Homo sapiens: one gene and its partner. The protein of the gene in region 1 purifies or fractionates together with the protein of each later gene. This does not show direct contact. Each region holds a gene or a part of one and is shown on either strand. Other genes may lie near its edges.

Region 1 (3,500 bases):
ATTAACATATGTAAATTTAAAAAATTAGCTAGGAGGTTCGAGGTATCCTAGGAAGCAATGCAGACTGTGAGAACATAATCTATATCCCAAATGTACAGAACAATCCCACTGGAAGGGGTCAGGGAAAAAGCTGCTGACCTAAAATAACTTAGGAATGAGTGGAGTTTTTTTTGTTTTGTTTTGTTTTGAGACAGAGTCTCACTCTGTCACCCTGACTGGAGTGCAGTAGAGCGATCTCAACTCACCACAACTTCTGCCTCCTTGGTTCAAGCGATTCTCCTGCCTCAGCCTCCCTAGTAGCTGGGACTACAGGCACATGCCACCAGGCATGGCTAATTTTTTATTTTTAGTAGATATGGGGTTTCACCATGTTGGCCAGGCTGGTCTCAAACTCCTGACCTCAGGTGATCCGCCTGCCACAGCCTCCCAAAATTCTGGGATTACAGGTGTGAGCCACAGTGCCCAGCTGGGTATGAGTGGAGTTTGAAAGTAAAGGCAATAGAAACTGTACATGAGCACTGTACATGTATTTGGGTCAATAAAGGTTTTTTCCCACAGGAATATGAGTTAACAATTCTGCTGCTGCTATACATGTATATTTGAATCAATTAAATAAATGGATGAGGCATGGGGGAGCAAGTTTCTTGCTGTTGGAGGGAACTTCATAGTTAAGCAAGAGAGGGGGCCACAGTGATCCACGTGGGAATGGATTGAAGCTGGAGACCTCAGCGTGAACTCACGTTTACCTTACTATGAACAGAGACATTTACGTGTCAACGTGTTTAAAGATATGTGGAAATACGCACAGGTTAGTGTCTATTTCCTTGCTCTGTTAGCTGAGAGGGCCTCGGAGGAAGGACACCCTGGAAGCAATGAGCACACCTGGTACCCAGATCTTGGCTTCTAGCACCATTCTCCAGGAAAGCAGCAGATCGTGGTTTCTAGCACCATTCTCCAGGAAAGCAACAGATCTTGGTTTCTAGCACCATTCTCCAGGAAAGCAACAGATCTTGTTTCTAGCACCATTCTCCAGGAAAGCAGCAGACCTTAGTTTCTAGCACCATTCTCCAGGAAAGCAACAGATCTTGGTTTCTGGCACCATTCTCCAGGAAAGCGACCAAGGCTTCTTGGAGAAGTGGATGGTTCTAGATTCGGACAGGAGATTTACAAGATGAGCCCAGAGCATCTCATAGTGCCAGGAGGGATGGAAGGGATTTTTTTTACAAATTCTATATTGAAGGGAGTATGTCACTTAAATGGGACATGGGAGCTAACTGGGAGAGCTCCCGATGGCCAAAGCTGAAGCCTTTTGAGCAAGAAAAGAAAGTAACATTGAATTATAACCCAAAGTATGAAACGAACTTCCACAAGTTCATACTGATGTAAATGAATGATTGGAGGAGCAAAAAGAAGGAAGAAAGGAAGGAAGACAGGTTGGCTGGATGTTGGAAGGATAGAAGGAAGGAAGAAGGGAGAAGAGACAAATCTCCCATATGCAGAAGAATTCCAAATCATGTCTGTAGATTCTCCACTACCAACGACACAGAACCTGACGCCCCAGTCCTGAAGTTTGGGTTGCGCGCAGCGCTTTCTTATAAAGAAAACGGGGAGAAAGAGCAGTCTTTGCGTGGAGAAGCCCGAAAACAGAACCCTAGCCAGGTGAACAAGGTCAGCATCAATAGGAAGTCATGATGGGGTCTGAGAGGCGGCTGCAGTCAAGAGGATCCTGTGCAGACAGGAGGCTGAGTGGAGTGTGGCGTGCTGGGTGGGATCCAGACAGGAGGCTGAGTGGAGTGTGGCATGCTGGGTGGGATCCTGAAAAAAAAAGAGACATTAGGGGAAAACAAGAAAATCCAACCAAAGTATGGACTCTCGTTAACAATACAGCATCAGTGTTGCTTCATGAATTGGAACAAAAGTACCCTACTAAAGCTAGATGTTAATAATAGGAAAAACTGGGTTGGTGCAGGGGATTCCGCATACTAGCTTTAGAACGTTTTTGTAAAGCTGAATCTTCTCTAAAAATAAAGTTGATTGAAACAAAAAAGGGGAAATAAAGTAAAAATAAATCATGCCAAAAAAAAAAAAAAAAAAAAAAGGAAAGGAAAAACAAGGCCAGGCATGGTGGCTTACGCCTGTAATTCCAGCACTTTGGGAGGCAGAGGCGGGCGGATCACTTGAGGTCAGGAGTTGGAGACCAGCTGGCTGACATGGCAAAATCCTGTCTCTTCTAAAAACACCAGAATTAGCAGGGTATGGTGGTGGGCACCTGTAATCTCAGCTACTTGGGAGTCTGAGGCAGGAGAATAGCTTGAATCTGGGAGGCGGAGGTTGCAGTGAGCTGAAATCGCACCACTGCACTCCAGCCTGGGAGACAGAGTGAGACTCTGTCTCAAAAAGCAAAACAAAATGACCACCCCCACTGCTTTGGTGCCATGTATTTTGTGTCATTTGTCCTCCTGGAGGATTGTACCTTAATGAAAAGGATGCATGGCCAGTTATAAAGAGTTTCAGATGCTCTGTTTGAGGATAATGATGGAGTAATCTTCAGCAGAAAGGGGACAGGGACCCATACGCTAATCCATGGCACGGATTCTACCATCTACCCCGGAACCACAGCCAGGGGCCTGGCATGTAGGAGGTGCTCACTCATTATTTGGTAAGAAATGCATAAATAAATGGATCTTGATTCTAGATATTTTGTTGTTGAAATTGCAATGGGTCTTTGTTCAAATTTAAAACTTGAATGATTTTTTTTTCATTTATTTAAAGAATAAGGAGTTATTCACTGGTTGGGTTGATCCATTTAGGAAATAAACATACAGGATGCTCAGTAACATTTGAATTTCAGGGAAACAGTGAATCTTTTTTAGCAGAAGTATGTCCTATGCAATAGTTACACTAAAAATTTATTCATTGCTTATCTTAAACTGAAGAGATGTCCTGTGTTTTGTCTAGCAAACTCCTCTATAGAAAAGGAATCTCAGGCCAGGTGTGGTAGCTCATACCTGTAGTCCCAGCACTTTGGGAGGCCGAGGTGGGCAGATCACCTGAAGTCAGGAGTTTGAGACCAGCCTGGCCCCGTGTCTACTAAAATACAAAAATAAAAAATATTAAAAAAACATTAGCCAGGCGTGGCAGTGGGCACCTGTAATCTGGGCTACTCAGGAGGCTGAAGCAGGAGAATTGCTTAAACCCGGGAGGTGGAGGTTGCAGTGAGTTGAGATCATACCACTGCACTCCAGCCTGGGAGACAGAGCAAGACTGCCTCTCAAAATAAAGATAAAAATAAAAATAAAAGTAGAAAAGTCATCTCAGCCGGCGAGAATATTTGTTGTCTAAATATTCCACAAACTGCAAAGCAAGGCTGGAGGGGGTCAACTGGGTACTAATGGCAAGAGAGGCAGGGGAAACGGCAAACCAAAGACAGCTCTAATCCCTGAAGACACCACTGTCTGCGTATGTGTAGGCTGATTTGTATGTAATGCACGTGTATGTGT
Region 2 (3,500 bases), on another chromosome or scaffold:
CCATCCACTCACATCCGGGAGCACTTTTTACTACACCTGGAATCTCCTGCCTGCTGGGGCCTGCCCTGTACCCTTCATCCTCAGGACCCACCTCACCAGTCAAGGAAAAATTACTCCAGAGGGCTCCACCTCCCCCTGCTTCCTCACCACGGGGCACAGCAGAACTTGGTACCTATGTCCTCTGCTTCAGGTTTCCATTGCAACCAATTTTTGTGTCTGCAGCTTGCCCAGCCTTCAGCACGAATAGTGCATGCCCCTTTTCCACTTGCCAAAAGGGAACTGGTGAGGATGGGCTGTAGAGGTCTTGTTAGGTTGTGCGCGGCCCCATCAGAAGTCCTGATGTGCCTGCCTTCCTCCAGGAACCCCACCTTGGACCATGACCATGGCCACCCTCTCCATCCAGGTGGAGGAGCGGAGCCTGACTCTGAGCAGAGCAGACCTGGGCACTGAGCACTGAGTTCAGGGTTTGCTGTCCGGACTCTTCTAAGGTGGAAAAATCGCTTTGGATAAATGAAGCCGAGATACATAGGCAACAGGAATCCTAGCAGAAAGTGTTAACATAAGCTCCAGTTCAAAAGAAGGCAGGTGTTCCTGGTTTCATCAGATAAAGGTCCATCGTGGATGAACTGCTCCCCAAGAAAAGTGACAGAAACACGCTGGGCTTCCTTAGGATTTGGTTAGCTGCTTGGTATCAAGCCTAATTTAGGAGTAAAGTCTTGCTGACCTTTAAACCAACCAACTCCAACCACACTGTTGATATTTCCTTTATTTTATTATTACTGAGTTACTCAGGAAATTATGGGGTTATTCTCCGTCTTATGATTATTAGTATTAATGATCATTATCAGTGTTAATAGCCATTTACATGATGCTTCGTTGTTTATGAAGCTGTAACTCGCATGGTCTCATTTACTAGCAGTGAATTCCTTGGAGAAACCCAACACGTATCATCCTCATTTTCTTGGTGAATCCATCCCTTTTAATAAGGTATTGACAACTTCTCTAGTAACCTACCAGAAAATTCCCATGAAGAAACAGTTGAATTCACCAGAATTTGGAATTGGATAACAGCTAGATTGTTTTTTATTCTTGTTGTTTATTTCATTCCTCTTGCTATGCACTGAGAAGAACGTTTCATTCTAAAAATATAGAAAATGGTGTGTTATAAAGACACTAGCAAAGACAAGCTCTATCCAGGGAGGGAGTCTACGTAGTGTCCAAGGAGAAGACGCAGATTGGGCTTCTCGAGCTGTAACCTTGGGATTGGTTAGAATGCAGATTTTGATTCAGTAGGTCTCAAGTAAGGCTTAAGGTTTATGCATTTCTGACAAGCTGCGGATGAAGACCTGGAAATCTGGTTGGTGGATAGAAGTTGTTGAATTGGGATGCCTCTTTCCAGGTGTCTGCACTTTGAGTCAGGCGGCTGTGACCCTGAGGGAGTTCAGAGGTGTGGCTGTCTATAGACCACACCTGGAGAAGTCAGCCTAGAGGGAGGTTTCCTGATCCTTAGTCATCAACTAATCAAGGGGAGAGGTTAAAGGTGTTGGTTCCTAGCAGGGACTGTGTTGGAATGTCGGTCAGAGAGGCTTCTCCAACCCTGCCTACACCTCTGCATTTAGCAGGGTGGGGAGTGGAGGCTCTCGCACCCATAAGTAGATGTTAGGATAAGTAATGTGTGCTTTAATAAGAATTGGAGATTGTGCTTTTGAAGTTCTGGCTGGAGAATAAGGTTTGGTACCTGGTGGAATGATTGCTAAGTTGTATTGTCACTGTCTTTAAAAACAGTGATATTTTGTGTGTGTGTGCATGTGCATGTGTGTGTGTATTTTCACCACCAGGTTGTCAAAATGCCCCTGTTTTTAAGAAAATAATCTGTCCATCCAGTTCTTCCTCATTCTGGCCTGGGGTGAGCCCAGCATGTGCCTCTGAGGGAACCAGGGGGAGAACCTGTGTTGCGGCGGGCAGGTGAGTCTGGTGAGTACCTGAGGCAGGGAGGGCTGAGCAGGTGGCAGGGTGTGTGCTTTGGAGCAGGTGTGGCCTGAGCAGTTGTGAGCCTGTAGCCAAAGCAAAGCGCCTGGTGAGCAGAGCAGGGGGCACCAAAAGAAGGCCCGGACGGTGGCCCAGAGGGGCCGAGGCCTTGTCTTAGCACTCCAGGGCTTCATCTGCAAGGATGTGGGCCAGCAGAGTTTCTGGGAGAGGGCAGATCGCACATATTTTCAGCTTTGCAGGCCACGCAGTCTATCGCAAGTACTCAACTGCAAAAAGCCATTCGTAGATGGTGTGGCTGTGTGCCAATACAATGATTTATGAACACTGAAGTTCATATAATTTTTTATGTGTCCCAAAATATTATGCTTTTGATTTTTTTCCAACCACTTAAAAATGTGAAAGCTATCCTCAGCTTGCAGGCTGCACAAAGACAGATGGCAGGCTGGATTTGACCCGAGGCCCAAGTTGGCCCACCTCTGGCCTACAGGCTGTGTTGGTCTAATAGGATCTCAGTGTACAGAATCTTTCATTGTCAAATTTTAGAAATTGTCATAAGATGGCTTGGCACAAAGTCTAGCACATAAGCTATATACCACCATGGGGAGAATGGAGAAGTTGGGATTATTCCACATTAGGGACATAAAACCCACTTGTGGCTATTCTCTCTAAAGCTTTCTCTTTGGAGAAAAAAGTGTGGTGAATAGGTTCCCATAACTCTCTAATACGCAAACACATGCTACAATAAATTGATTTCAGATAGAGATAAGACCCTTCGACTCACAGCAGAGAGTGTTGCATTTCTCCGGGACCCTCACAGCAGCCTTTCTGAGCAGTTGGGAGAGGCATTAGACTCGTTTTATAGAGGAAGAAGCTCCTGCCCACAGAACTGGTGTCACTAACCCAAGGCGACAGTTCTACCAAGCTGGGGGCCAGGATTCACATCCGGATCTTCCTATTCCAGCTAGCGTTTTTGCTGTCACTGTCTCATACAGTCCTTTGGAAGAACTGTGTCCTAAAATGTCATTTGCAAGCCATTTACTAGAACATGGAAGTTTTCTCTTTAGAAAAAGAAAAATGTGGTGAACAGATTCCCAGGTTGCCCAAGATGAGATGACCCTTTCATCTGTAACACAGCAGAACCATAGTCCTGGAGCTTCGGTGTGAGTTCTAAGGCCCTGGGGCTGTGAGAAGTAGGAAGGAGTAGGTAAAAAAGCAAATTTCTTTGCCTGAGAGTGGCCCCAGACAAAATTCCCAAGAGGCTGGCGATGTCCGAGCTGTCTTCTGCCCTGTGGGCACCCTGCCCCCTCCCCGTCTCTGGCCATCTGGGCCCTCTCGCTTGTTCCCTCCCTCTGTGACACTCAGCTGAGGGGCGTCTTGTGCAGTGGGGCCCGGCTGGCCACCGCCTGCTAGTGTCAGGGCAGGAGCGAGCGCCGGTGGGGACGAAGGCACAGCCCACACCGGCTCCTGCCCCGGACTCAGCCACCCAGCACCGGCTCCTGCCCCGGACTCAG

The links. The genes of interacting proteins can lie anywhere in the genome.
Region 2: the proteins of GLT6D1 (region 1) and GLB1L2 purify together in Homo sapiens (affinity purification with mass spectrometry; one large-scale study listed by BioGRID and IntAct). This does not show direct contact.

Annotation. Positions count from the first base shown.
Region 1 is NC_000009.12:135,633,041-135,636,540, reverse strand, and holds part of GLT6D1 (putative glycosyltransferase 6 domain-containing protein 1), read left to right. Parts: intron 1-3,500.
Region 2 is NC_000011.10:134,338,488-134,341,987, forward strand, and holds part of GLB1L2 (beta-galactosidase-1-like protein 2 isoform b precursor), read left to right. Parts: intron 1-3,500.